Linked DNA regions of Homo sapiens. The protein of the gene in region 1 interacts with the protein of each later gene in a biochemical or structural test. Each region holds a gene or a part of one and is shown in the gene's direction. Other genes may lie near its edges. The genes, in order: PARD6G, SLCO1C1, ABCC4, MAP2K2, CYSLTR2, ARHGEF16 and DOCK4.

Evidence for each region.
Region 2: the proteins of PARD6G (region 1) and SLCO1C1 interact in a test that uses a peptide from one of them, tested with the Homo sapiens proteins (one large-scale study listed by IntAct).
Region 3: the proteins of PARD6G (region 1) and ABCC4 interact in a test that uses a peptide from one of them, tested with the Homo sapiens proteins (one large-scale study listed by IntAct).
Region 4: the proteins of PARD6G (region 1) and MAP2K2 interact in a test that uses a peptide from one of them, tested with the Homo sapiens proteins (one large-scale study listed by IntAct).
Region 5: the proteins of PARD6G (region 1) and CYSLTR2 interact in a test that uses a peptide from one of them, tested with the Homo sapiens proteins (one large-scale study listed by IntAct).
Region 6: the proteins of PARD6G (region 1) and ARHGEF16 interact in a test that uses a peptide from one of them, tested with the Homo sapiens proteins (one large-scale study listed by IntAct).
Region 7: the proteins of PARD6G (region 1) and DOCK4 interact in a test that uses a peptide from one of them, tested with the Homo sapiens proteins (one large-scale study listed by IntAct).

Annotation. Positions count from the first base shown.
Region 1 is NC_000018.10:80,205,640-80,209,963, reverse strand, and holds part of PARD6G (partitioning defective 6 homolog gamma), read left to right. Parts: intron 1-4,324. UniProt on the Homo sapiens protein: Adapter protein involved in asymmetrical cell division and cell polarization processes. May play a role in the formation of epithelial tight junctions. The PARD6-PARD3 complex links GTP-bound Rho small GTPases to atypical protein kinase C proteins.
Region 2 is NC_000012.12:20,736,008-20,740,331, forward strand, and holds part of SLCO1C1 (solute carrier organic anion transporter family member 1C1), read left to right. Parts: intron 1-1,099; coding exon 1,100-1,265; intron 1,266-4,176; coding exon 4,177-4,324. UniProt on the Homo sapiens protein: Mediates the Na(+)-independent high affinity transport of organic anions such as the thyroid hormones L-thyroxine (T4), L-thyroxine sulfate (T4S), and 3,3',5'-triiodo-L-thyronine (reverse T3, rT3) at the plasma membrane.
Region 3 is NC_000013.11:95,157,980-95,162,303, reverse strand, and holds part of ABCC4 (ATP-binding cassette sub-family C member 4), read left to right. Parts: intron 1-968; coding exon 969-1,115; intron 1,116-4,324. UniProt on the Homo sapiens protein: ATP-dependent transporter of the ATP-binding cassette (ABC) family that actively extrudes physiological compounds and xenobiotics from cells.
Region 4 is NC_000019.10:4,103,106-4,107,429, reverse strand, and holds part of MAP2K2 (dual specificity mitogen-activated protein kinase kinase 2), read left to right. Parts: intron 1-4,223; exon of another isoform or gene 4,224-4,324. UniProt on the Homo sapiens protein: Catalyzes the concomitant phosphorylation of a threonine and a tyrosine residue in a Thr-Glu-Tyr sequence located in MAP kinases. Activates the ERK1 and ERK2 MAP kinases.
Region 5 is NC_000013.11:48,660,010-48,664,333, forward strand, and holds part of CYSLTR2 (cysteinyl leukotriene receptor 2), read left to right. Parts: intron 1-4,324. UniProt on the Homo sapiens protein: Receptor for cysteinyl leukotrienes. The response is mediated via a G-protein that activates a phosphatidylinositol-calcium second messenger system.
Region 6 is NC_000001.11:3,471,526-3,475,849, forward strand, and holds part of ARHGEF16 (rho guanine nucleotide exchange factor 16), read left to right. Parts: intron 1-1,552; coding exon 1,553-1,705; intron 1,706-1,867; coding exon 1,868-1,997; intron 1,998-3,182; coding exon 3,183-3,257; intron 3,258-4,324. UniProt on the Homo sapiens protein: Guanyl-nucleotide exchange factor of the RHOG GTPase stimulating the exchange of RHOG-associated GDP for GTP. May play a role in chemotactic cell migration by mediating the activation of RAC1 by EPHA2.
Region 7 is NC_000007.14:111,726,810-111,731,133, reverse strand, and holds part of DOCK4 (dedicator of cytokinesis protein 4), read left to right. Parts: intron 1-2,413; coding exon 2,414-2,860; 3' UTR 2,861-4,324. UniProt on the Homo sapiens protein: Functions as a guanine nucleotide exchange factor (GEF) that promotes the exchange of GDP to GTP, converting inactive GDP-bound small GTPases into their active GTP-bound form. Involved in regulation of adherens junction between cells.

The DNA of each region.
Region 1 (4,324 bases):
TAGATATGATTAATAGAGATTGATATGATATAGGTGATAGATGGACATTTCTTATTTTCTATTTATAGTATAATGATGTTATCATTGAATACATTTTAAAGAAAATAAAAATGATTTGCATTTAGAAGCTTTTGATACACTTTGTATTTTTTGAGACAGGGTCTTACTCTGTCATCTAGGCTGGAGTGCAATGGTGCAGTCTCACTTCACTGCAGACTCCACATCCCAGGTTCAAACGATCCTCCTGCCTCTGCCTGCCAAGTGATTGAGACTACAGGCGTGTGCCACCACGCCTGGCTAATTTTTGTACTTTTCTGTAGAGACATGGTTTCCCCATGTTGCCCAGGCTGGTATCAAACTCCTAGAGTCAAACGATCCACCTGCCTTGGCCTCCCAAAGTCCTGGGATTACAGGTGTGAGCCACCACACCTAGCCAGATGCTGATACGCTTTTGCTTATTGATCTTGGTATTTTGTATTTGAGATAATTTTTAATAATTTTAAAAGATGAAATCTCCCCCAACCCCGTTTTTTACTATCCTGTTGTAGGAATAATAGTTGGGGTCAACTACAAAATAGAATAATCATTATCTAAATAATGAATGAGGGTTCATTTAGCTAGAAGCATTGAAGAATAAGAATTTGCACACCTGTGTATTTCCCAATAACAAATAATCTTATTCTTTAAAAATAAACATGGGATTCATAGGCTTACATACATTTCTTGCCATATACCTGGAATTAGCCATTTTGCCTCGGAACCATGGGTCCTTTTAAGGGGAAATGATACAGCTCATAGTGTCAGGGTACTGGTGAGGGAAAGGTGTGTTTTTTTTTTTTGTTTGTTTGTTTGTTTTCTTTTTTCGAGATGGAGTCTCACTCTGTTACTCAAGCTGGAGTGCAGTGGTGCAATCTTGGCTCACTGCACCCTCTGCCTCCTATGTTCAAGCAGTTCTCCTGGAGCACCCTCCCAAGTAGCTGGGACTACAAGCGTGTGCCACCACGCCTGCCTAAGTTTTTCTGTATTTTTAGTAGAGATGGGGTTTCACTATGTTGGCCAGACTGGTCTCGGACTCTCCCTTGGCCTCCCAAAGTGCTGAGATTACAGACATCAGCCATCGCTGGCCAATGTGGACTTTTTGATGGGGTTATCTATTAACTTGCTACTAACCTAGGCCAGGCACAGCAATGCAATCTTTTTTAGGAAATTTGATTTTTTTTTTTAACATAAACAAGGTCTTGCTATGTTGCCCAGGCTGACCTGGAACTCCTGGGCTCAAGTGATCCTCCTGCCTCAGCCTCCAAGTAGCTGGGACTACAGGTGTATACCACCATGCCTGGCTTGAGTATTGATCTTTCATTGAAATTGGTCACTGGTTTGGAGTGAGGAGATGACCTCCCGGGATAGGATGGCTCCCTTTGAGGCATTTTATGTGCGGGATAGTAGGTGAATGAATGAAGCCCAGCAGATGTTGAAGCAGCCGTCCTGTTGTAAGTCCTGCTATACGAACAAACACCCACATGAAAAACAATGAAAATATTAGGGAGTGCCAAGTCTCCTGCTAACCTTTAATGGTGGTTTAGGCATTTTCATAGTGATCCCTGAACTCTGATGTTGTGGTCTTCAAATGTCACATGAAGCCTGAAAGAATTTTGAAAAACTACCACTATAAAAGGGGATGATATATTTTTAAGTTGGTACCTGAATTTTTTTTAGTAAATATAAATAGTTTGCAAAGGATGTAATTTACAGCATGCTGTAAATATTCCATTACAAATAAAGTTTTTGGTGCATGATCTTCTAAATACAGCCAGTGAAATCTAAATGCTGCAGTGATTTGATACAGTGAAATCTAAATGCTGCAGTGATTTGATACAGTGAAATCTAAATGCTGCAGTGATTTGATACAGTGAAATCTAAATGCTGCAGTGATTTGATACCACTATCATGCATTTTAAAATAGGATAAACAGACTCTTATTTTTGCCACTTTTCTGACTCTGAAGAGCTCTTTTCTAATCAGAAATTATACATGGTTTCTTTTTCTCTTTGATTTCTTCTTCCCATTACTCCCTCAAGAGATTTTTGTCCTAATATTTTATTCTAATAACTTATGCTTCGTTACCCCTGTTACTCTTCTCTGCAACAAAAAATATGTATAAATTGAAGTTCAAATATTTTTCTCTTGTGGTCCTGGGGCTCTATTTGTTAAAAATATTTTTAAGTTGTTTACTAGTATAGGGTTCTAGCTTGCAAGATGAAAAGCAATCTAGAGAGTGGGTGCATAACAGTGTGAATGTACACTCCTGAACTGTACACTTAAAAAGAGCTAATATGGTAAATTTTATGTGTGTTTTACCACAATTATAAATGAAATAGATTGTTATAGTAAATTTCTAGATTGAGTTATTAACAAGTATTATCAAATGGTGATTGGAACATAGTTGTGCAATTTGATAATCACTAGCCATCCAAGTAAACATCTGAAGAATCTTTCGTTTACATTAAGTATTTATTGATAATCACTAGCCATCCAAATAAACTTCGGAAGAATCTTTCATTTACTGTTAAGTATTTATTGATAATCACTAGCCATCCAAATAAACATCGGAAGAATCTTTCATTTACTGTTAAGTATTTATTGATAATCACTAGCCATCCAAATAAACATCGGAAGAATCTTTCATTTACTGTTAAGTATTTATTGATAATCACTAGCCATCCAAATAAACATCTGAAGAATCTTTCATTTACTGTTAAGTATTTATTGATAATCACTAGCCATCCAAGTAAACATCGGAAGAATCTTTCATTTACTGTTAAGTATTTATTGATAATCACTAGCCATCCAAATAAACATCGGAAGAATCTTTCATTTACTGTTAAGTATTTATTGATAATCACTAGCCATCCAAATAAACATCGGAAGAATCTTTCATTTACTGTTAAGTCTTTATTGATAATCACTAGCCATCCAAATAAACATCTGAAGAATCTTTCATTTACTGTTAAGTATTTATTGATAATCACTAGCCATCCAAGTAAACATCTGAAGAATCTTTCATTTACGTTAAGTATTTATTGATAATCACTAGCCATCCAAATAAACATCTGAAGAATCTTTCATTTACTGTTAAGTATTTATTGATAATCACTAGCCATCCAAATAAACATTTGAAGAATCTTTCATTTACTGTTAAGTATTTATTGATAAATGAGGTAGGCTGGCACTAATTGTTTTGCAATTTTTATTGTTGGGTGTCAACACTGTGAAGCTTCATTTGCACACTCAGGTAGATGAGAGTGAAGGCCCCTAAGCACAGCTCAGTTCTTTGAACTCTCAACAGGTTGTGTGACAAAAATAATAGGGTGGTCTCTCAAAATTATTTTGATAATTAGCTGACAGTTCAGTTAGGACAACTTTATATTTTGTCAAAAGCAAGTAATTGGAAACTACTTGACTTGCAAGGTTTATTGCCTGGTCATTAGAGCCATTCACTGTTTCAGTTTCTGGTAAGTATACTGGAAGGACTTTACCAAGAAGTATGTGACAATGAATTATACCTGCTAATTCCTTCATTTAGAGGACTCTTGTTTAATCTGATATCATGGGGAAATAAAAATATTTAGTACCCAATACCAATATGATTTTTAAATACAATGCTTTTGTCATGTCACATTTCACATCTCTTTTTGTCAAAACTTTGGAGCTCATTCAACATATGAAGCATGTTTACCATATAGCTGGGTTGGCAAAGTCAGCCTCATCATTAAACACAAATCAACCTTGTTTTCTCTCAGGAAACAGTCTGAATTTATTTTTCATTTCAAGTTAACATGCTAAGACATATTTTGAGAAAATTATTGAACGTACTGAGAAACTGAGATGTGTTTTAGGTTAGTTGCTAAATAAAGTTAAGACTGAAACATTGTAGAACTAACATTTAGCCTATGCTGTTTCAGGGAGGCCTGGCGTTCCTGAGGTGAAAGTGAGCTGTATCCCTTTGCGGTGATACTGAAGTGAGAATTATATAAAATTCAAAAACACTCTTACTAGTTGCATTAGACATGATTAAATTATCTTATGTATTCAGTTAAACGAAAGCCATATAGTGATACAAGGAAATTGCTTTGGAAGTTGGTATATGTATTAGTCCATTCTCACATAGCTGTAAAGAAAGACTACAGACTGGGTGGTTTATAAAGAAAAGAGACTTAATTGGCTCACGGTTCCACAGGCTGCACAGGAAGCATGGTGACCATCTGCTCCTGGGACGGCCTCAGGGAGCTTTTACTCATGGCAGAAGGCAAGATGGGAGTAGGCA
Region 2 (4,324 bases), on another chromosome or scaffold:
GAGGAATAAGCAAATAAATAAATTTGAAAATAAGGAGCAGAAAAAATGAAGTATGGAGGGCCAATGAATGGCACATATGGTGCAGATAGAAATGACATACCATTGCAAAAGTTCCTTTTGAGAAGAGTAGAGGAATATGAATAGCAAAAAAAAGGATAAAAGCAGAAGGATTAGGCCATTCAGGTGACAGAAAAAAAAGTGAGGGAGAGAGAATACTGGGAGAGATGAAGGATAAATATAAAAGCGAATGGCAGAGAACAAAAAAAAATGAAGGAGAAAAGAAAGAATGCAATCACAATTTTGTGAAATAACTCAAAAAAACCAATTTTGGGGGGGGGTGCAAATTTTGTCTCATTAATGTTTGTAACCATCTCCTATTCTCCCGGAGCTAGCACTTAGTAGGCTTCCAGTAAAATTTTATCAACAAATAAATGGGTAAGTCATTGAACTTACTTGTGAATTTGAGTAAGAAAGGATGCTATAAGATATGAAAGAGCACTATACACTGGGAGGATACACAGGAGAAAGGTTGAATGAACTGGGAATGCACTTGTTGGTTACACACATGCAAGAGGACATGTAACTCCTGCAAACACTGAAAGAGAATTAACTGATAACTGATTGGCTATTTTTCCTTTTACTGGACCATTAGTAATATCCATTCCACTCATACTTAGACAACAATTCTGAATGAAATTTGCACACACACAACACACACACACACCCCACCTGTGATGCATTGAAGTAGTGTCATAAATTGCTCTAAAAGTTTACTTTTCTACCTTGTTAGCTATTTTTATACACCTTTGCACAGAAGTATATTAGAAGATCCTAGAGGCTGTAGACTGAAAGCTATAAGCTAAGAACTGGACATCATGTGAATTTGTAAACCTCTAAAGATAACTTTCAAGAGAAAGCTGTTTATTAGTAAACTCACATTTCATGACCAGAAGCTGCCATTTCTGATGACAACTGTGTTTCTAAAAGGCAAATTTTGTTCATAGTATCATTTATATCACTCAAGAACATTGATTTTTTGAAAATATTCGGGTGCTACCTGCTAAGAGGTAATATTTTATATTGTTATATTTCTTTTCAGAACCAAACCTGTCTCTTATCATGAACGAGCTCTCTTTTCAGATTGCAACTCAAGATGCAAATGTTCAGAGACAAAATGGGAACCCATGTGCGGTGAAAATGGAATCACATATGTATCAGCTTGTCTTGCTGGTTGTCAAACCTCCAACAGGAGTGGAAAAAATATTGTAAGAAATCACCTCTCAAGTATATGGCGATGGTCCTGTTACAATATAAACAACAAAACTCTATGGGGGCTCACAGCAGACCACTACTAGTAGGAGGCTTGCCTCTTACCTCTGCCTGGTCCTTTTTTGTAGAAAAAGAAAATGTTATAACCATTCCTAGTGGTACTGGAGTTGCTGAAAAAATTAGGGTGAGAATTAGAGTCATCAAATAGGGTGGAAGAGATTTTGTAATTATGTAGTCTATTTCTCTCATTTTGCTTATAAGAAGTGTTAGCCCTGAATTAGAATGTCTGTCGTATGATCATCATAATAAGATATGCTTTCAGATCCATGTCCCCTGGCCCTAAGATCCGTGGTCCTTGGAGGTTTTAGGGAATGAACAAATAGAGGCCAGTATTAGGAGGCTTAGCTCCAGAGATTCTAGACCTTGGGGTCAGGGATCTGATAATGAGGAGGTTGATGGTTCTAGGACAACTTTGGAAAATCAAGCCAATTTGTATAATAATGAAAGGGCAGGTGGGCTGGAATGGAGGGTTTCCATAGGGCAGAAGAGGGAGATGAGGTAGGAAATATAGGTAGGAATCTATTTTAGTCAGTCCAGGCTGCTATAACAAATATACCATAGAATGGGTGGCTTAAACAACAAACATTTATTTCTCATAGTTCTGGATGATGGGAAGTCCAAGATCAAGGTGCCAGCAGAACTGGTTCCTAGTGAGGACCCACTTTCTGGTTTGCAGATGACCATCTTCACCTTTTATCCTCACATGGCAGAGAGCAGACAGGGAGAGACAGGTCTCCTGTCTCTTCTTATAAGGGCACTAAAATCACATTCATGAGGGCTACACCCTCATGAACTAATTACCTCCTAAATGCTTTACTCCAAATACCATCACATTGAAGGTTAGGATTTCAACATATGAATTTTGGGAAAATATTCAATCCTTAACAGAAAGCAATTGTGAAGGATGTAAAGTACTTCAATCATTAACAGATTCACCCTTCTCAGCACACCTTTCCATTCCTGTCCCAAACAGACTCTTCCTTATCCTTGCTCTCTGAGACTGCTTTCTATTTGTGACTGATTAAATTTGCCTTTATTTGACAATCCTAGAGGGCAGAAAATTAGACCACCCATGTATCTCATTTATTTATATATCCTTATCAACTGGATATGAATACTTAGGCTGTATATCCACAGATATACAGTTAAGTTTGTTAATTTACTCTGTTCATTGTATTATTATTTTGACTTATTTACAGCAGAAAGGATTGGTTTCTAGCAACAATGAATAAGACTACCTACTCATCTGAAACATGTTTTCATGCTTCTCTTTTTTTCTTTTCTTTGCTTTCTTCCTTTGTTATTTTTCTTTCAGCTACTGTTATTTTTGCTCACAGCTGCATGAAGGTTTTTTTGTAATGAGAGCTACCATTTATAAAAGACATTACAAGGAAAGGTTAAAGATTGGTGTTAAAAGAACAAAATTACATTTAAATCTCATGGTCCTGAAATAATTTGCATTATTTTCAGTATTTTCTTCATGTGAGAACTGAGGCACTGAGATACAAAGGACTTGCTTAACTCATTTATCTAGTGAGCGACCAGAATTAAGATTCAAAGGTTTCAACTTGACATTACAAAAAATCTATATTGCCACTCTTTCTAGAAAAGTAAATGCCAGCTTTATTTATGGTCTAAAAACTCACAAACTCTTTTGTGATTAAAAATGATAACATTATATATATGCATTCATAAATAAAATTTACAGAAATAAACTATTGAGGGGTTATACAAATTGTCTCTCTTCAGTCAAAATTTAGTTGAGTTTTATGCACCAGAATTATTTTTTTCTCATAGCCACTGTAAATTATGTCATATCCTCAAATTGTTCCCATTTACTTAACTAAGTTTTATCAAATGCCTAAAATGAGAGTCTATTCCATTCCCCAGTTGCATAATAACAAAGCAGCAGTTTCTGCTTTCATGGAGGTTACATTCTGTTGGGAAAGTATGTTTTAAAAATAAGTAAATACAGGATATCCTGATAGGTAGTAAGAAGCACTGTAAAAAAAAGACATACATTAGAATAAGAAGATGGAGAGATGGGAGTTGTTTTTTTTTGTTTTTTTTTTTAAATGGATAGTCATAGAAGGTCTCTATTAAAACCTCTAAACGGAGAACTAAAGTATGGACGCCAGCTGTGTAATCACCGAAGAGAAGAGCTGCCCGGGCAGAGAAAATAGCAGGGCCGTGAGGCATGGATGAACTTGCCAGGTTTGAGGGGATGTTTGGAAAGGGCAAAATGGGGCCTTTGCAAGGGTCATGTGTGTGGCTTACACAGAAGAAGAGAGGGAAGATCACTGAATGGTGAGATTAGAGTGGCATCCAGGTGCTACATGATGGAGAAAGTGTAAACTGTTATAAGGATGTGGGGTTTCATGCAAGTATGATGAGAAACCACTGGCAGGTTGAGGGTAGTGATGCAGTCTGACTGCCATGTTTAAAGGTTCACTTTACTTACTGGGTGGAAAGCAGATACTAGCTAGATAAGATTGGAAACAAGTTGCGCATAAAGGGAGCATTGTAACAATCTAGGCAAGAAATCATGGTTACTTAGCATTGGAAGTGGTAGCGAAGGAGGTAAGGTATGGTTAGATTAGGCAGGATTTGCTGGGAGATTGTTGTACAGGATTAGTAGTTTGTAGATAGTCATCTGCTCTTTAGATAATGAAATGTTGTATCTATATAGATTTTGCTTTGCTCAATATACTGTAATACAAAAAAATAAAAGAATATTTCCTCATTGTTTACATAATGCATGGCTACGGTAAACATTTTTAACATAACTGTCTTTAACTTTATTTAAATGTTACTGAAATAATTGGACTTTTCCCTATCGTGTTACAGATATTTTACAACTGCACTTGTGTGGGAATTGCAGCTTCTAAATCCGGAAATTCCTCAGGCATAGTGGGAAGATGTCAGAAAGACAATGGATGTCCCCAAATGTTTCTGTATTTCCTTGTAATTTCAGTCATCACATCCTATACTTTAT
Region 3 (4,324 bases), on another chromosome or scaffold:
TGGTGTTTATTTCATCGATCGCTTGCTAAGAAATCTAAATCTGTTAGGTGTTTACCTTCCAACTGATGGACTATGTGGAAACTAAAGGAAGAAGGAAATCTATTATGTTCTATTATGTTCGTGTAGGATGGCAGGCTAAGGATAATGCCCGTTGATGGAGTTAGGAATTTGAGCTGCTTTCAGAGGTTAAATAACAGTGACATGTCATCTGAAAGGGAAATATTTGTTATAGAAGTTACCCCCACTGTATTTAGCATTGTGAATGAAGAGATGTTAGGAAAGCTCTTTTAATTTCTATGTGAATAATGGATCCTCATTCATGTCTTAATAAAATGTATGATTTATTTTATTCATTTAAAAATGTCTTGTGTCTATGTAAAACAGTGGGGGATTAGTTGCTTATTTAGATTAATTATCTTATGTTAAAATATAATTTGTGTTTTCTTGCAATTCAATTATTCAAGAGGTTTTCCACATGCAACTTAATACGGTATTTTTAAATTCTTTAAAGCTACTTGGGCATTTTCTACAAGGAAAAGGTAAATCATTTCTCCTATTCCTTGTTAATATCACATGTTGGTATCAAAACATACCACCTTTTTTAGATTATGGGACATAATGTAAGTAATAAGATTTGGAATATGGAGAAGATCAACTACACTTCATGATTATCTATCCTACTTCTGAGTTTTTAATAGAACTTGCAATTGAATTAGAGCCTAGAATGAAATTGTATTATACACCTGATTTTTCTTTTCTGTGCAGTTTCCATTCAGTGAGAGAAAAATAAACTATTTTAATCCTTCTTTGTCAATGTATTTTGTAAATACATTATACTTATGTAGAATCCAGATGCTTTATGGAATAAATTAAGTAACATCTTTATAAACTACCTGGCTTGCTTTAGCAACTATTGAAGAAAATGCAGAGATATGCTGTGTTCTCTAAGTGATATTTCTTTATTTCAGGTTTAACTGTAGCTACCGTTCTTTTTGGCATAGCAAGATCTCTATTGGTATTCTACGTCCTTGTTAACTCTTCACAAACTTTGCACAACAAAATGTTTGAGTCAATTCTGAAAGCTCCGGTATTATTCTTTGATAGAAATCCAATAGGTAAGTCTGACACCAAGTTTCTCAGTAAGTATGTCTTGTTAACAACACATTTAGGATCTGATTACATTTCCATCTTTGAAAATGGAAGGGATGCTGGGAAGAAAATCACTATGCATGTTGATTCATTTTCCACAAGAAACTTCACTGATATTTTTCTCCTACCAGAGAAAATCTAAATATGCGGGGGGAGGGGGGGGCATACAATCTTTTATTCCAATTTATATGTGTGTGGAAAAATAAATGAATGTTCACTTTGCAGAATGCTTTAGGAATCCATTTGCTGTGAGGCAAGTGAAGCATCCTGCATTCCCTGTAAACATGTTTAAATGTAGTTGAATAGTTGCTAAACATTGGCTGTGTTTACATAGTGTTAGGTTATGCCATTTTTCAGAGGGATCTTTGTAATCAGGAATGCTCTGACGTGAGACAGGCCGTGCATTTCTTTCTTTCATTGGGAAACCCGTTCATTTCTGGAAACACAGGGTTTTTGTACATACCCTGACTGTGAGGTTTCCCTGAAAGATAATATGTGGTTAATTAAAAGCCAAGATTGATAAAATGTAAACTCCCCTTCAAGAACAGTTTCTAACTCTGTGGTTTTGAAGTAGACTTTTGGTTCTATAATAGAGACTTTGTTGAACCTGCCATATAGATCTTCAGTAGCTTGTTTCCTAGGTATACCCAACTATACCCAGTATTTTCCAAGTGGTTGATGCCTCTGCACTATGCGCTTCTTATCTGTCCTGCTTCTGAGGCTAGCCTTCCTGACCTGGGTTCCTAGGGAGAATTAGTTGTGCCTATAAGTCCCCACCCTGCTCAGTTGAGTGGACTTGTGGGGAGGCCTGAGTGACATTGTGCAAATGATAACTGCCCTCATAGAAGCAGGGAGGTGGCCTGGAGAGAACACAGGCACAGCTTTGGCCTGGCCATTGACTAGCTTTTTGACCAAGGCCAGAGCACATAGGTGCTATTACACAGGCAAGTCTCCAAGCAGATGCTGTAGTTCAAAGTGTGAACTCAAGCTAACTACCTGGGTTCAATCCTGGTGCTGGTTACTAATTGTTATAGCTGATTATAGTTACATTCATATTCATGTCCTAGTTACTTAATTTTTCTGTGTCACAGTTTTCTTATCTGTAAAATAGGGATACTATTCATACCCACCAAATTGAAATCTTATGAGAATTAAGCATGTTAATACATTCCTAGCACATGAAACTGGGTGTAGCAACATGGTCAGTGCCTAACGAATGTTAGTGACAATGAAGCCATGTATCTGTGAACTGAATCACCTTCACTGTGGGGTGGAAATTACTCCTACCCTCTCTGTTTTACATGATTTTTGTGAAGATTAAAGAAGACTGTTCTGGAAAGCATCTTGTGTAGATTTATTTAACAAATACTTTTCAGTCCAAGCACTGTGCAACGTGCAAGGATTTGTAAACTGCAGAGACCACACAAATATCGGTCTGATTTCAGCTGTTATTAGAAAGTCATTGGAGGACCTCTGCGCTATTACAGCTGTAACGTTGCGCCACTTTGCCAGTTAATTTGAAACTACAGTCATAACATTTGGAGCATTAAGTGGGACTGCCTTTCTGTTATCACAGGCCTCGGAATGCTCATGACTACCATTAACCAGCCTCTCCATGTTTGAGACCTGTGGGCTTCTCCTCATGCTGATTTATTTATTATTCAGGGATTTGGGACCCAGTCTAAATCTTGGAGGTGACTAATCTTACAGCAGCACCTGAGTGTTTATCTTGCTTCCTCCTCCTATATCTATTAGCATGACTTTATTCCTTCAACAAAATAGAAGCCCAAATAAGTACCCCAAGAGAGGTCTACTTTGTCCAAAATGTTTAGAGGTCATGAATTATTTACTTTTTTTAGTGGTAGATGTTGAAAAAATGTAAAAATTAAAAGTTTTTTAATGGTAGAATTAAAATTTTCATTTAGATAAAATTTTTGCACTTTTTACAATGGTGAAGGATACACAAAATCTGTGAATTACGCCTCAGAATTCACATTACTGATTGTATGCACTTCAATAGTTATATATATATATATATATATATATATATATATATATATAAAATTTATTTAGAAATAAGGTCTCATTCTGTTGACTAGACTGGAGTGCAGTGATGTGATCACAGCTCACTGTAGCCTTGACCTCCTGGGCTCAAGCGATCCTCCTGCCTCAGCCTTCCAAGTAGTTGGGACCACAGGCCTGTGTCACCATGGCCAGCTAATTTTTAAAATTTATTTTATTCTATTTTGAAGAGATGGGATCTCACTATGTTACCCGGGCTGGTCTCGAACTCCTGTGCTCAAGGGATCTTCCTGCCTCAGTCTCCTCAAGTGCTGGGATTACAGGCATGAGCCACTGGACCCAGCCGGCTTTATAATATAAATAAAAATTCCCCTCTATGATAGTGAGGCAGGCATGCTCGATTTTTCAGTACTCTTAAACATACATGTTAAATATGTATAAGTATCTGGCATGATGTTGTGCCCCCTGAATTGCAGAGTGTTCTTTGAGTGGGGTAGAAAGACTGGGAAGCATGTCTGAATACTTAGTTATTAAAAGCAAGCTCTTAGAAGAGCCCCGGGGGAGTTTCCTATGAGCTCAGCATCCTGATATTCTCCCAGGTTTTAGAAAACTTAGGAAACGGGGAGGACCTCTGCTGGCATGTAGTTTCCAGTAAGCTCACCTTGGGATGGTGACTGGCACAGAAACTCCAGGTGATTCACACCGGGGGTCTGGCTAGACGTCCCTCATATCCCCATCTCCAGTGCCCTTGTGCTGGAATATTCTCAGTGACTCTGGTCTGCAGCATAGAAATGTCTTCTCCATTATTTTATGTCCACTCCCACCCCAGTGTGCCATCCCCCTCATCATGCTTCTGCCCAGATCCTCATCTGTGTGGTTAATGAATGGGCGACCCTTGCTGGTGACTCAGAGAACCAGACCTTCTGGAAGGGTCCCCCTGACTGCCCCACTGTGGTCCCAAGTTCACTTATTTGGATTTAGGGAGAAGGGGAAGGTAAACCTGGAAGGTCTGTGTTTCTTCTCAGCAGCGAAGTTTCTGTTTCTTTTTTTTTTTTTTTTTTGAGACGGAGTCTTGCTCTGTCACCCAGGCTGGAGTGCAGTGGCGTGATCTTGGCTCACTGCAAGCTCTGCCTCCTGGGTTCATGCCATTCTC
Region 4 (4,324 bases), on another chromosome or scaffold:
GCCTCAGCCTCCCGAGTAGCTGGGACTACAGGCGCCCGCCACCACAGCCGGCTAATTTTTTGTATTTTTAGTAGAGACGGGGTTTCGCTGTGTTAGCCAGGATGGTCTCGATCTCCTGACCTCGTGATCCGCCTGCCTCTGCCTCCCAAAAGTGCTGGGATTACAGGCGTGAGCCACCGCGCCCGGCAAGTTTTTTTGTAGATATGGGATGGCACTATGTTTCCCAGGCTAATCTTGAACTCCTGGGCTCAAACGATTCTCCCGCCTCAGCCTCCCAAAGTGCTGGGATTACAGGGGTGAGCCACCGTGCCCAGTGATGTATTTATATAAAATGGCAAGCACTTGTTGGTGACTGGAACTTAGGAACAGTGGGGCTGGCTGCTTCCCTGGGGTCTGAACCTATTACTGGATAACTCGGGGCAAGAACCCAGTGGACAGTGGGGCCTCATGGGATGGGGAAAGGAGAGCCAGTGGCTTACGGACCTCGTAGAGGTGCCCCTTGGCCTTTCTGGGGGTCTCGTCCTATCTGCTGAAGAATGCCCGTCTTGTTCTACTGTAATGGAAACTGGACATGTCCATCAGTAAGGGAGTGATTAAAGAATGATATTTGGCTGCTTTGCAGTGGCAAAGTGAAATCCACAATGGTGTACTGAATGGGAGTATCCCCACAGTACAACACTATTCATGTAGTGGAGGGGTGGTTGTAGAAAATAAACATAGCATGGGCTGGGTGCAGTGGCTCACGTTTGTAATCCTAGCACTTTGGGAGGCCAAGGCAGGCGGATCACGAGGTCAAGAGTTCAAGACCATCCTGGCCAACATGGTGAAACCCCATCTATACTAAAAATACAAAATTAGCTGGGCATGGTGGCGCACGCCTGTAGTCCCAGCTCCTCAGGAGGCTGAGGCAGGAGAATCACATGCACCCGGGAGGCGGAGGTTGCAGTGAGCCGAGATCATGCCACTGCACTCCAGCCTGGCGACAGCAAGACTCCATTTCAAAATAAAAGAAAAATAAAATAAACATAGCATTGGCCCATTCATTTGTTTATTGTATTTTCAAGTCAGGGTCTTGCTCAGTTGTCCAGCCTGGAGTGTACTGGTGCTGTCCTCCCACGTCAGCCTCCCGAGTAGTTGAGACCACAGGCGTGAGCCACCATGCACAGCTAATTTATTTGCTTATTTGTGTAGAGATAGGGTCTCTCCATATTGCCCAGACTGGTCTTGAACTCCTGGCCACAAGTGACCCTCCTGCCTCGGCCTCCCAAAGTGCTGGGATTACAGACATGAGCCCATTTCGATGTTGTTTTAAACTCTGGCTGGGCAAGCATGCTTTAATCCCAGTGCTTTGGGAGAATCCCATGAGCCCAGTAGGTCGAGGCTGCAGTGAGCTATGATTGAGCCACTGCTCTACAGCCTGGGCAAGAGAGTGAGTCCCGAGTCTGTGTTTCCAAATACACAGCAAGATGCGGGGGCCAGGTGCTCACTCCTGTGATCCCAGCACTTTGGGAGGCTGAAGTGGGAGGACCTCTTCAGCCAGGACTTCGAGAGCAGCCTGGGCAACATGAGGAACCCCCGTCTCTACAAAAAATTAGCAGGACATGGTGGCGCGCCTGTACTCCCAGCTACTTGGGAAGCTGAGGTGGGAGGACTGCCTGAACCAAGGAGGTGGAGGCTGCAGTGAGCCAAGATCACAGCACTATGCTGCAGTCTGGGCGACCCCTGCCTGAAAGAAAGAAAGAGAGAGATGAAGAAAGATCTGGAACAATATAAGTCACACTTGAGGGGGGAATGGTGGAAGTGATGCGGCGTCCAGGTTATTTATCCTCATTTGAATTTTTTATAAGAAAAATGTGTTTGCCGGGTGCGGTGGCTCAAGCCTGTAATCCCAGCACTTTGGGAGGCCGAGGCGGGCGGATCACGAGGTCAGGAGATCGAGACCATCCTGGCTAACACCAGTAGTGAAACCCCATCTCTACTAAAAATACAAAAAATTAGCCGAGTGTGGTGGCGGGCACCTGTAGTCCCAGCTACTCAGGAGGCTGAGGCAGGAGAATGGCGTGAACCCGGGAGGCGGAGCTTGCAGTGAGCCGAGATGGTGCCACTGCACCCCCGCCTGGGCAACAGAGCGAGACTCCGCCTCAGGAAAAAAAAAAAAAGAAAGAAAAATGTGTTCACCTACTACCTACGTAACAAAATTACAGTTACAAGACCATTTTAAACATCACACACACACACACACACACACACACACACACACACACACACACACACGGTAGACGTGTATGGTCATGCACAGAGTGAGATTTGGGGTCAGCAGTACACAGCTGCAATACCCCCTGCACCACATCCTGTCTCTGTGACTCAGACAAATTGCTTACCCTGCCAGACTTTGGTCTTTATAGCTGGAGATCAGCCCTTCTCAACCAGGGGCAGTTCTCCCTCCCAGGAGACACCTGGCACTGTCTGGGGATGTGTGTGGTTGTCACAACTGGGGGATGCTCCTGGCGTGGAGTGGATGGAGGCCAGGGACGCTACTCAGCGCCCTGCAGTGCCCAGGTCGGCCCCACCCCAGAGAGTGACCTGGCCCCGATGTCACAGTGGAGAAAGGCGGCTGCAGAGAGAGCGATGCTCCTGTGAGGCGTCTTCCACCAGCTCCTGAGGCTGCAGCACAGCGCTCCGCCCGCCCTCATCTCCGGGGAGAGGCTCTTTGAATTTTCTCACTAAACAAACATTGATTGCGGCCCCAGGAGAAACGAAGACGGAAGGAGCTGTGCTGGGGAGCAGGGGTTTTAGGGTTGCGTTTGGTGCGTCTGTTTGGTTTTCGCCACCCTGCCTCTTTCGAGTCGTTGGTCTCTTTCTGGTTTTTGTTTTTTTGAGACAGGGTCTTGCTCTGTCACCCAGGCTGGAGTGCAGTGGTGTGATCTCGGCTCACTGCAACCTTGACCTCCCAGGTTCAAGGGATCCTCCCACCTCAGCCTTCTGAGTAGCTGGGACTACAGGCGTGCACCACCACGCCCGGCTGATTTTGGTATGGGGTCTCACTGTGTGGCTCGGGATGGTCTCAAACTCCTCAGCTCAAGCATTCTTTTTGCTTTGGCCTCCCAAAGTGGTAGGATTATAGGTGTGCGCCACCACGTGCGGCTTTTTTTTTTTTTTTTTTTAATTGAGGAGTCTTGCTCTCTCGCCCAGGCGAGAGAGAAGTGGCACGATCTCGACTCACAGCAACCTCTGCCTCCCAGGTTCAAGTGATCTTCCTGCCTCAGCCTCCCGAGTAGCTGAGATTACAGGCATCCACCACCACGCCCAGCTAATTTTTTTTATTTTTAGTGGAGATGGGGTTTTACCATATTGGCCAGGCTGGTCTCAAACTCCTGACCTCAAGTGATCCGCCTGCCTCAGCCTCCCAAAGTCCTGGCATTACAGGCGTGAGTCACCGCTCCCAGCCCATGTCCGGCCTCATTTTAAGTAATTCTTTTAAGGTAGATTGATAAAAACTGAGAATAGAAGCAGCTTCCACCTGGCCCTGGCTCACTGGAGCTCCCGTCCTGGCACCTCCTCCTGGGCTGTCTGAGCCCTGGCCATACCTGCCCTCTCACCCTGTGTGTCTGCGTCTTCAGCCTGGAGCTGGTGGATGGAGTCACGTGTATGCTTTAGAGGTCTCAAAGCGTGTTGGGTTTTCTAGAACTGCCTTCGGCCTTTCTCTCCAAGCCTAGCTGGGCAGAAGTGGCCAGAGAGCGGCAACCCGGGCACCCCTGAGTCCCAGGATTTCTCCCCCGGCTCCTCCCACCCATGTGAATGAAAGCCATCCCAGGGAAGGCTGGGCTTTTGCAGGAGTCCTGGAGCAGCATGGTGGGGAAATCCAGGCTCCCCAGCCAGCCTCTCCAGGCTCCTCCAGCCCGCCCTCTCTAGCCTCAGTTCCACTTTCCTCTCTGCTGAGCACAGAAGAGACGCACGCCAGACGGTGGCAGTGGGAACTTGGCCTGTCACCCCTGCTGTCCTGGGGGTGGCCTGGCAGGTGTGTCCGGAGCCTCTGCCTCTGAAGAGGCACCTTGGGTGGCTCCCAGTGCCTGGGGTTTTGGCATTTGGGGGTTTTGGTCCCCAGGTTTGTTGCCAGGCAGCCTTGGGCAAGACATGGAATTTCTGTTTCATCATTTATGACATGGATGTGGGGCCACACCCGGGGACCAGCCTACCCATGATGACTCGTTTCCAGGCCCTCCGCAGGATGCCCGGCACAGTGGCGAGGAGACCACAGGCTGTGGGGAGGGGCCGAGGTTACCGTCACCTGGGCTGGCGTCACTGGGATCCCTCCTGCAGTCCA
Region 5 (4,324 bases), on another chromosome or scaffold:
ATCTCTAAGCAGCTCAGGGCTCTTCATATATGATGTTTTTGTTGAGTTGAATTTTTGTTTGTTTATTTGGTGGCTGAATGTTAGTGGTAGGATGAATGTGCAAGAGAAGCTAGCTTTTGGAGTCTATTAAAGAAGGAAACAAGGAGAATTAGTAAAGACAGAGGTGGGAAGAAGGAGGTCTGAGGTAATGCTGTACATCTTGTTCTTGAGGGCAGAGGTGTCCCCTGGCATGTTTGGATGCCAAACTTCTGCTAGGTTTCAATCCCTGCTACATCCCTGGGGATAAGTTGTTCTCTGGGAGATAACAGTAGATCTGCCAGAAAACTCTTCACCAATGGCCCAAAGTGCTGACTTCATGGTTAAGTGGCATGTGGAAATAAATGGCATTCAGAAAGCAAAGGGTCACCAGCCTGGTGGCCAATGAAGTGACTCATACTTTGGGGGCTCCTTGAGGCACTTTGTGGGTGACCGGGTAGAGGAAAAATCAGTGCAGCAAAATTCTCCAAGGCACTGAGTCCATGAAAACAAGGCCCTGTGAGATTCATTCCCCTCCATCCCACTTCCTCTGGAAGCTCAGAGACCAGCTCCGTTTCACATTCAAAATATGTCACAATTTCAGTTCCTTTTATCTGTGTTTCTGTTTTGATCTCCAAGAACTTAATTCACCTTGACTTTTTGAAAAAAAAATTCTGAAAGCACAAGACCGTTCTTGGAAGGCCAGGAAGGTCTAGAAAGCTTGGCATTTCTGACATGACATTTGGAGCCTGTTACAAATAAACTCTGAGTTGTCAGCTTGGGTCTCAAGAGTAAACTCTCAGTGATACTTCCCTGTTCTGGAGGGCCGTGTTAATTCAGCACTCTGAGGCCTCTGGGATTTTGAGGAACAAATGTGTTGCAGAATCCTCTCTGCACAACTTCAGAGAGCTTATTCTGTCAGCCTTTGCAATAACAACAGCTAACACTTAATATGGCACTTTCTCTGGTCCAGGCCCTGACCTAAGTGCCATTCATGTATTATCTCACTTCATCCTTACAACCCTATGAAGTAAGAACTATTATTAGCATTACCCCTTTCTTTTATTTATTTATTTAAATTAATCTTTTTTTTTAATTTTTCTTTTTTATTGAGACAGTGTCTTGCTCTATTGCCCAGGCTGCTCTTGAATTCCTGGGCTCAAGCGATCTTCCTGCCTCAGCCTCCCAAAGTGCTAGGATTACAGACATGAGCCACTTTGCCTGGCCGCATTACCCCCTTTTACTGATAAGGAGCTGACGCCGAGGGAGATAAAGTCATTTTCCCATGGTCATAGAGGTAGTCCGTGAACAAATCAGGATTTAAATCCTGAGGTTGCTGCTCTGTTACTGCTTCCCTGCAGCTGAGAGCAACACCTGTCATGCTTCTCACCATTTTTTATCATTAAATCATTTCTCAGCCTTGTTTTTATATATTTACTAGTGCCCTGCAAAAATTTTGCCTCCTTAATGCTTGTTCTAGGTCCCAATTCTGAGGTTTAATAATAATAGTTAACATCACTGAGCGCTCACCCTGTATGAGACAACTCACATTTATTATGCCATTTATAGATGGCATAACTGAGGCTCAGAGAAGATAGGTCACTTCTGCAAAATCTCACAGCCAGTAAGTGGCAGATGTGGCCTGCTACCTTACACCAACTGTCTCCTGTGAACACTTCTATTTATTTTAATTTATTTGTCAAATTGACAAATAATAATTGCATATTCATGGGGTATATATTGATGTTTCTATACATGTAATGTATATTGATCAGATCAGGGTAATTAGCATATCCATCATCTCAAATATTTATCATTTCCTTTTGTTGGGATCGTTCAATATCCTCCTTTGAACTAGTTGAAACTATTTAATACATTATTGTTAATTAGAGCCATCTTACAGTGGTATAGAACATTAGAACTTATTCCTCTCATCTAGTGGTAATTTTGTATCCTTTACCAAATCTCTCCCTTTCCCCCACTCTTCCAGGCCTCTGGTTTCCTCTGTTCTACTTTTTACTTCTATGAGATCAACTTTTTTTACTATTCCACATATGAGTGAGAACATATGGTGTTTGACTTTCTGTTTCTGGTTTAGGAAATACAATGGACTTAACATAATGTCCTCCATTTCCACCCTTGTTGCCACAGATGACAAGATTTCATTCCATTTTATGGCTGAATAGTATTCCATTATGTATATATACCACATTTTCTTTATCCATTCATCTGTTGTTGAACACTTAGGTTGATTCCATAACTTGGCTATTGTGAATAGTGCTGCAGTAAACATGTCAGTGCAGACATCTCTTAGGCAAACTGGTTTCAAAGCTTTTGGGCAAGTACCCACAAGTGAGACTGATGGATCATATGGTAATTCTACTTTTAGTTTCTTGAGGAACCTCCATATAGTTCTCCATGGTGGCTATACTACTTTACAGTCCCACCAACAACACATGAGTTCCCTTTACTCCACATCCTTGCCAACATTTGTTTTTTCATCTTTTTGATAATAGCCATCCTAACTGGGGTGAGATGATACCTCATCGTGGTTTTGAGTTGCAAAATCATCACTGATGATTAGTGATGTTGAACATTTTTTCATATACCTGTTGACCATTTGAATGTCTTCTTTGTGAAATGTCTGTTTAAATCATTTACCCATTTTAAAATTGAATATTTTGCTGTTGAGATGTTTGAGTACCTTGTATATTCTGAATATTAGTCACCTGTCAGATTAGTAGCTTGCAAATATTTTCTCAAATTCTGTAGGTTATCTTTTCACTCTGTTGATTGCTTCCTTTGCTGTGCAGAAACTTTCTAGTTTGATAATCCCATTTGTTTATTTTTGCTTTTGTTGCCTGTGCTTTTGAGGTTTTATTCACAAAATCATTTCCCAGACCAGTGTTCTGAAATGTGTGTCCCATGTTTCCTTCTAGTAGTTTTTATCATTTTGGGTCTTATATTTAAGTCTTTGATCCATTTTGAGTTAAATTTTGTAGAGTGAGAGGTTTGGGCCTAGTTTCATTCTTCTATAGACATCCAGTTTGCCCAGAACCATTTATTCAGGAGACTGTCTTTTCCCCAATGAGTATTCTTGGCACCTTTGTCAAAAATCAGTTTGCTGTAGATATTTGGATTAATTTCTGGATTCTCTATTCTGTTCCATTGGCCTATGTGTCTGCTTTTGTTAGTAACATGCTATTTTGGTTACTATAACTCTGTAGTGTATTTTGAGGTTTGGTGGTGTGATACTTCCAGCTTTGTTCTTTTTGCTCAGGTTTGCTTTAGCTATTTGGGTTCTTTTGTGGCTCCATACAAAGTTTAGAACTTTTTTCTATTTATGTGAAGAATGTCATGGGTATTTTGATAGGAATTGCATTGAATCTGTAGGTTGCTTTGAATAGTGTTGTCATTTTGACAATATTAGTTCTCCTCCATGAGCATGGGTTGTCTTTCCATTTGTTTGTATCCTCTTCCATTTATTTCATCAGTGTCTTGTAGTTTTCCTTGTAGAGGTCTTTCACCTCCTTGGTTACATTTCTTCCTAAGGTTGTTTTTTGTTTGTTTGTAGCTGTTGTAATGGGATTGCCCTCTTGATATTTTTTTTCCAGCTAGTTCATTGTTTGTGTAGAAAACACTACTGATGTTTGTATATTAATTTTGTTTCCTGCAACTTTATTGAATGATTTATTAGTTCTAAGAGTTTTTGGTAGAGTCTTTCTATATATGAGATTATCATCTGTAAACAGGAACAATTTGACTTCTTTCTCTTGAATATGAATGCCATTTATTTATTTCTCTTGCCTAATGACTCTGACTAGGATTTCCAGTGCTATATTGAATAAGAGTGGTGAGAGTAAGCATCATTGTCTGTCCCTGTTCTTGGAAGAAAAACTTCCAACTTTTTCTAATTTAGTAAGATGTTTGCTGTGAGTTTGTCACATGTGGCCTTTGTTATATTGAAGTACTTTCCTTCTATACCTAATTGTAAGAAGTTTCTATCATGAAGTGAGCTTAAATTTTATCAAAAGATTTTTCTGCATCTATTGAGGATCATATGGCTTTTGTCTTTCACTCTATTGATGTGATGTATGATGTTTATTTATTTGCATATGTCGAACCATCCTTGCATCCTGAGATAAATCCCACTTGATCATGGTGTATTGTGTTTTTGATATGTTGTTTGATTTGGTTTGCTAGTATTTTGTTTGGCATTTTTGCTTCTATACGTATCAGGGATATTAGCCTGTAGTTTTTTTTGTTGTTGTTGTTATGTCCCTATTCAGTTTTGGTATCAGGGTTATGC
Region 6 (4,324 bases), on another chromosome or scaffold:
ATGGGATGGGGCTGGGGGAGGGGGAGGGGTCTGGGATAGCGGCTGCCCCTCCCCCAGCTCTGCCCCCAGCCAGGCAGGCTTTGTGTTCTCTGAGCTCTGTGTCCTCCGGTCCCCTCTGCCTCAGGCAGCTGCATGTTTGCCTCTGACCTCCTCAGGGCTTTAGATTGCTGCCCTGGGGCGGGAAGCTCCGGCCTCCTCCCCCAGCTGGGCCCCCGACAGCTCCTGGCATTCACAGTGAACTGTCTGGGGAATCATCGCTATTTGGGGTAAGCGGCTGGTGGGCGGCTCTCCCAGACCTTTCTCAGAACCTGCAGTCACCCATATGAGCTGCTGACCGGCCTGGCCGGCCTGGGCACGTACGCATGTCGTGGCCCTGCTCATCCAGCAACCGAGGCCTCCCATGACCTGCTGGGTCCTCGTCCACGGGGACTGCAGCTCCATCTGCTGGGGATTCTCAAGGGCAAGCAGCTGTCAGGACACTCTCCCTGCAGGAAGCGTGGCTCCTGCGTGGGTGGCAGGCCCAGTCGGGCCCCGTGAGCAGAGGAGGAGGGACTCCCGCCCACCTCCACGCTGGGTAAGGGAGTCCTCCGAAGGACAGAGCTCTTGGGCTGGGAGGACCTCCTGTGGCGGCGGCCTGGAGACACGGATGTGGTCTCGGGTTGGGTGCTCTGAGGGTCTGCAGGATGGACGAGGCTCCAGCCACCGCCTCACACAGCAGGTGACCATCGTGGGTCCAGCCAAGCCCAGCCTTGGTGGCCGTGGCCGCCCATGGGGGCAGAATCCTGGCAGCCCTGGCCTAGCTCTGACCAAGTGTTAACTCCCTTCATCCTGATCACCCTGGACCAAGGCCTGGGTCATGGGGAGGTGAGGGGCTGGTAGCCCCTTCCAGGGAGTCTGCCAAGAGCCCACAGCTGGCCCCCCCCCGGCCTTGACTGTTCCCTCAGAACGGGGTGGGGGACCTAGTGAAAGTAAACAGTTCATGAACCCAGCTGGGAGCTTGACCAGCAGAGCTGCCTCGGATTTGGGACTCATCCTTGGAAGGGGTGGCCCCAGGCATCGCCCCTCTTTGCTCTTGTGCCTGTCCCCTGAGTCTCCGTCCTTGAGTTTCTTCCCAGGGGCAAGCTGGTGCGGCAGCGGGGGCCCGGGCCTGTGTGGAGGCCCAGTCGTTTTAGCTGGAAGGAGCTTGAAGGGCGAAGGGCACCAACTGGACAGGGCACCAGGACAGGAGGTCCAAATGGGCCCGCCTTTGGGGACAGTCCCTGGGGCTGCCCCTGGACAACAGAGGGACGGCACCAGTGCGTGGGATCGTGGCAGGGGGCTCTGTAAGGAGCCCCAGGCCTCTGACCACTTCCCACCCGCCCTCCCTGCTGTCCAGCATCCCAGGTCCGGGTCCCGCCCCAAGTGCTTGCTGTGTGCTGCCTCTGGGAGCTGAGCTCAGCTCCTGCCACGTCCATGTATGTGTGAGTGTGCATGCAGATGCATGTCTGTGTGTGCACACGTGGGGCCCGACCACCAGGCCCGTGGCACCCTCCTCACCCCTCCTTGCCTTCAGGTTCTTCGAGGACCTGGAGCAGCGGCACAAGGCCCAGGTGCTGGTCGAGGACATCAGTGACATCCTGGAGGAGCACGCTGAGAAGCACTTCCACCCCTACATCGCCTACTGCTCCAACGAGGTCTACCAACAGCGCACGCTGCAGAAGCTGATGTGAGTGGGCGGCCCCGAGGCCCGCAGGGTGGCTCAGGAGCATCCTGCACCCTGGTCTCCCAAAGCACATTCCTGCTCCCAGCCCAGCTTCTGCAGGTCCTGCCTGATTTTGGTACAGGCTGGCCATGCAGAGCCTGGAAGGACAGCCTTGTCCTCTTGCAGAAGCAGCAACGCCGCCTTCCGAGAGGCCCTGAGAGAGATTGAGAGGCGGCCGGCGTGCGGGGGCCTGCCCATGCTCTCCTTCCTGATCCTCCCCATGCAGCGGGTGACCCGGCTGCCCCTCCTGATGGATGTAAGTCCACGGCCTGAGGGTGGGGCCGGGCATACCATCCTGGGGTCCCACGGCCAGAGCCCTGCCCCGGATGGAGCATTACGTGCTTGTGACCTTCTCCTCCAGGCTTGGCCTATGATATTGTAATAGTTACGATCCTAAGATGGCTTTATTAACCAGGATAACTTTGTGGTCGCCGCCACCCACAGAGCTCACTGTGCCGGGAACTGTTCCAGCCCTTGGCGGATTTGTGTTCACTTACTCAATGGTTCATGAGGTTCAGGCACACTGACGAGTTGGAACTGGCATCACCCAGAGCCCTGCTGAGCCTCCTCCCAGCCCCCACCCCACCAGTCCTCCTAGACGTGGTAGCCCTGTCCCTGGCACCTACTCTCCCTGTTCTGTGGACGCAGAGAGGGGCTCAGAGAGGCTCACCAGCATGGGCTGTGTGTGTGGGATGCCAGCCCACAGGGCAGAGGGTATATGAGGGTGAAAGGTGTACACACACACGCACACATGTATATACAGTGTACACGCACTCAGGCACGTATGTGCCCATGTGCACACAATGCATATGTATGGATGCACGCCAGTACACACATGCATGCACACTTGCACACACTGCATTGCACCGATGCATGCACATGTGCACACAATGCACACGTTTGCATACATGCACACACAGGCACTGCACACACATGCACCCGGTGCACACACATACACGTGGATGCACACACATGCATGCACATGGTGCACAGGCATATTCACACATGTGCATGCTGCCCATACACACAGCCCCGCACATGGCAGGACTGAGCTAAGCTTCCTGAGGCTACACATGGCAGGGTTGCCCAAGCCAAACAGAACCTCAAACTCCTGGGGGCCCCAGGGATGTGCAGAAATGGGGCTGCCAGGGGGCCTCCACTGACGATTCCCCAAGTTGGATGGAGATGGCCGAGGATGGGAAGGGAAGGGTTCCAGGCAGGGGTGCTAGCTCCTGTTCCCACTCAACCTGGCCTGACCTGGCAGAGCTCCAGGTGGTGCAGAGGCCGTTCAGGGGCTGTACGTGCTGTGGGGCCCTGCAGGAGCCCCCTGGGGGCAGCTGTTGACCACCCTGCAGCCCCACACGGGGTCTGGCGTTGGTGGGAGCCTCCACACCTGGGATGCCAGAGGGGACTTTCTGTCCCATGTCTGTTGTCCATCCAGACGCTCTGCCTCAAGACCCAGGGCCACTCCGAAAGGTACAAGGCTGCCAGCCGTGCACTGAAGGCCATCAGCAAGGTAAGATGGGGCCTGGCCCCAGCCCTACCCGAGTCCTGTACCCCGACCCTGTCCCCACCCAACCCCACCCTACCCGATGGCATAGGGCTGGCTTCCCCTACCTTCCAGGGCAGCGAGTGTTCTCAGATTATCCATCCCAAGCCTTTCACAGCGCTGACAGGGAAACTGAGGCCCAGAGGTTCCCAGATTATCCATCCCAAGCCTTTCACAGCGCTGACAGGGAAACTGAGGCCCAGAGGTTCCCAGATTATCCATCCCAAGCCTTTCACAGCGCTGACAGGGAAACTGAGGCCCAGAGGTTCCCAGATTATCCATCCCAGGCCTTTCACGGCGCTGACAGGGAAACTGAGGCCCAGAGGTTCCCAGATTATCCATCCCAGGCCTTTCACGGCGCTGACAGGGAAACTGAGGCCCAGAGGTTCCCAGATTATCCATCCCAGGCCTTTCACGGCGCTGACAGGGAAACTGAGGCCCAGAGGTTCCCAGATTATCCATCCCAGGCCTTTCACGGCGCTGACAGGGAAACTGAGGCCCAGAGGTTCCCAGATTATCCATCCCAGGCCTTTCACGGCGCTGACAGGGAAACTGAGGCCCAGAGGTTCCCAGATTATCCATCCCAGGCCTTTCACAGCGCTGACAGGGAAACTGAGGCCCAGAGGTTCCCAGATTATCCATCCCAGGCCTTTCACAGCGCTGACAGGGAAACTGAGGCCCAGAGGTTCCCAGATTATCCATCCCAGGCCTTTCACAGCGCTGACAGGGAAACTGAGGCCCAGAGGTTCCCAGATTATCCATCCCAGGCCTTTCACAGCGCTGACAGGGAAACTGAGGCCCAGAGGTTCCCAGATTATCCATCCCAGGCCTTTCACAGCGCTGACAGGGAAACTGAGGCCCAGAGGTTCCCAGATTATCCATCCCAGGCCTTTCACAGCGCTGACAGGGAAACTGAGGCCCAGAGGTTCCCAGATTATCCATCCCAAGCCTTTCACAGTGCTGACAGGGAAACTGAGGCCTAGAGCCAGTGGAGCTCTCACACAGTTGATGAGCCCGTGGCACGGCTGGTCCAG
Region 7 (4,324 bases), on another chromosome or scaffold:
GTTATTATGAAGTACCTGTGACAGCATTCACTCTGGAAGTCATAGCCTGTCACCTCGATGTGATAGAAAGGAAAGCAACATGGCTTTTCCGCACTTTTACATTTGCCCTTACTCACACAGAGCTCCCACACGTTGCTATGGAATTATCATCTGTATTTTTCAACTTAAATTTTGTTGGGTAGTAAGAAAATAAGTCTTAAGAGATTAATTCTTAAACATTAAAAAGAACCCAAGAGCTAAAAATGTTTGAATAGCTATAAAATAGTCTTAGCAAGCTGGTATATACTGTCTCTCAGCAGACCTGTGTACATTTTTACTGGCCATATGCAGTTCGAAGCCATGTCTTTATATGTAGGGTTTGAAGGAAGAGAACATAGATCGAACATTTGTGTTATACCTCCTGGGTTACATTAGGGGGCACACTGCTACCATGTTACTAGCCTTGCAGTGTGCTGCCTTAACTGATAAGAGTTTAGTGGGGTTTTGGGTTTTTTTTTTACCCCAGCCAGCCATCAAACTGTGGGTCTAACCCTACAGCGAAGACTGAGCTGACCTGCCATATTTTGAATTTCAGGTCTAACTTTTGACAGAGGTAGCAGTGAATTGGGAACTCTTAATTGGCCTTAATGTTAGGCTCCTACTAAATGACAGGATGTGTATCTACCAGCGTTATTTTGTTTACAAAGAGAAACCAAAGTCAAGTTAGCTTAAGAAGATAGCATTTCTCAAAGTGTATACCATAGAACACTAGTTTTCCAGGACATTATGTAATAAGCGGGGGAGAAAAGGTCTATAGTCAAGTAAGTTTGGAAAACACTGGACTGAACAAAATTATTTGTATTCCTTTATTCTAAGCCTTGAAAATGCGAATATGTTTTGAATATACACAAGGAGTATACAGTGTGCAGCATTTCCCAGCGGAACCCTCTTTTCACAGAGCATCTATCTTAGGACTCGTTTTCCTTGGGATACTAGTTGGGAAAGTAACAAACTCAGATGCCAAATGGGGCCAGACAGCTGACACAAATGAAGGAGGCCGGGTGTAGTCCCCACGTGGCATAGTGGGGACTGGCAAAGTGAAAAGGGACAGCCCTTCTCAGCTTTTAAAGATTATCTCTATTAAGAGAATGTGTGCCATTGTGGCCAGAACTCCTAGTTCTTTATGAACTGCCAGAATTCTGGAGTTTCATGTGAAATTTGAAATGTTAAAAATTAACTAAATTAGGTTTTTAAAAAACTGCTGAGGAAACAGCTCACATCACAGGCTACAGCCCCGAGGGCTGCCAGTTCGCCAGTTCAGCTCAGGAGTCTGGAGTCTGGAGTGATGGCTGGAGAAATCAGGTGCAGAACCTCGGGTGCCTCTGCTCCTCCTCCTGAGCTCTCTGGGTCTTCTGAGCTGAGTGTGCTCAGCGGCCCTGGCTCCTGGCCTGCAGCATGCCCTGCTGAGCTGGGAAAGTGAATAGCGCCCCCAAAGGTTTTATGGCGTTTTTAGGTTTTTGGGGTTTTTGGCCAGTTCCCTCTCTTCCAAACTATAGGACTAATGTGTGCCTCCAGATTATCTTGGTGGATACCTTTATTTATTTTTTGAGACAGGGTCTCATTGTGTTGCCCAGGCTGGAGTGCACTGGTGGCTCCACGGCTCACTGCAGTCTCAACCTCCCAAGGTTCAGGTGATCCTCCCAGAGGAACTGGGATTACAGGCATGAGCCACCACGCCCAGCTAACCCTTTGGATTTTTAGTAGAAATGGGGTTTTGCCATGTTGCCCAGGCTGGTCTCAAGCTCCTGGCCTCAAGTGATCCCTGCATCGGCCTTCTAAAGTATTGGGATTACAGGCGTGAGCCACCATGCCCAGCTCCTTTCTCCTCTATCTGAAAATGATAAGGAGTAAACTGGGCGGTGAACTGAACTCGAGGACTGGTGGCCCTCGCAGATAAACGTCTGGTGTGCATTTTCAGTGCTACAAAGGACAACACTCAAATTTGAGTGTGAGTGTATTCGTCTGCTCGGGCTTCCCTCACAAAATACCACAAACTGGGTGGCTTAGACACTGGGAATGTATTTTCTCAATTCTGGCAGGTAGAAGTCCAGGATCAATGCGTGGCAGCCTTGGTTTCCCCGAGGCCTCCCTCCTGGGCTTGCAGACCGCCCTTCCTGCAAGGTCTGTGTGTGTCGCATTCCTGACGTCTCCCTGTGTGTCCAAATGTCTCTTATAAGGACACCAGTCAGCTTGGATTAGGATCCACCATAATGGCCTTTTACCTTAATCACCTCCTTAAAGGCTGCATCTCCTGCTGCAGCCGGCTTTGGGGGTGCTGGGGGCCGGGGCCTCCGCGTCGGGGCGTACATTTCAGCGCATCTGCGTTCACGACTCAATGCTGTGTCTCCCTCTCGTTTCCTTCTCCCCGGAGCAGGGCTCTGTGCAGTCTTTCACCCCCTCTCCAGTGGAGTACCACTCGCCAGGACTCATCTCCAACTCCCCTGTCTTGTCGGGCAGCTACAGCAGTGGGATTTCTTCTCTCAGCCGGTGCAGCACGTCGGAAACCTCAGGCTTTGAAAATCAGGTGAATGAACAGTCGGCCCCCCTGCCGGTGCCAGTGCCGGTGCCCGTGCCGAGCTACGGCGGGGAGGAGCCAGTGCGCAAGGAGAGCAAGACTCCGCCCCCGTACAGCGTCTACGAGCGGACTCTGCGGCGCCCCGTCCCGCTACCTCACAGCCTCTCCATCCCCGTCACGTCGGAGCCGCCCGCGCTGCCCCCCAAGCCTCTGGCAGCGCGATCCAGCCACCTGGAGAATGGGGCCCGGAGGACTGACCCCGGCCCGCGGCCCAGGCCCCTGCCCCGCAAGGTCTCTCAGTTATAAGTCACTTTTCTATGTACCTGCGATGCATTCTTTGCCCGTTTACAAAATAAGAAGTATGATGAGAAGACATTTAGTGTAGGCACTTTAATAACTTACTCAGCTCCTTCGATGAATGGAATTAAAACTTGCTTATTAAATATCATGTTGCACAATATTAAAAGTTGCTGATCTAAAACGCCAGATGTTAAATGAAGTATGGCTGAATTTCATTAAAACGTTTCTCATTTGGAAGTGGTAAATAGTGATAAAGACTCCTTTTGTACCTTTTTATGTTCACTTTTTTTTATATAGTTTAATCTTAAAACCAATACGATATTGTCAAACGATACAATGTGTGACAATGTTGTATCGTTTTTACTGAATACTTGATACTTGGAGAAAGCTTATTAAGTCAGTGCACATCCTAACACAGTGGTCCTTATTTTAGAAGACTTCTGTAAATAAGGCAAGGTTTATCAGTGCAGATCATCAGAATTAAAGTTCAAGCAGGCGAGCAAGACAGTATACTTAAGGGGTTGCAAAGCTTGGGACTGGAAATTGTTTTGTTCTTGAAACAAAATACTTCTTTAAGGTTGCTTTTGCTGTTTGACTGCTGTCTACATTCGTAAAATTCTATTTTGTGAATTGGTAGCTAAATCCCTTACTACCCTGACACCGTGGTATCTACTGTATTTCTTTTCAAGGTGCAATTTGCTTCAGAGTTCCAATCAGCTAGATTAAGCAAGAGGCTCCAGAAGAAATGTTTACTTGAATTTTGCGCTTCCTTTCTTGATAGTTTCCTATATAAAATTTGTCATTGAACAAGAGCAAATGCTGAAGTATTAATGAGGCACAAATGACTGTGCCCCATTAGCAAGAATTCAGGAATCAATACAGACAGTATTAAATTAATAGCTTAAGTGAAGAAAAAAAAAACTTAGTGAAAATGTATTAGCACGATTAAATGGCAAAAGGACTTATAAAAGGCAAGGGCATTAACTTTCAGTCCTGCACAAAATAAAAAATTCCTCACGACTCTCCACTTTTACCAGTGGAGTTTGTCTTAGCTGACCTGTCGTCTTTCTCTTGAAGGAGGATTGCTGTAGACTTCTCTAGCTTGAATATTGCAACATAGCATCTTAGGTCTAGATAGGGATGCTAATGCCAGTTGTAGAAGTGTGAAAAAAGCACCTTGTATGTAGTAATGTATTTTATATCTTTGTTTTTTCTTTTACTGACTGTTTATAACACTCAATTGACAATAGATATGAACTGTATTTTAAATCATACTGTTAAATATTTTCCCTCTTTTGTTGGGAAGCTCATTTTAGTTTAACCATGTTTGTTTTGTTGGTAGCTTACCTGGAAGGCAGTGACCACTTTTTTATATTCTCTTAATGAAACCATTCAGCAGGTATATGCTGTTGAGGCTGGTTATAGAGGTTTTCTATAATAAATGTTCAAGTATTTTTGTATATAACTGGT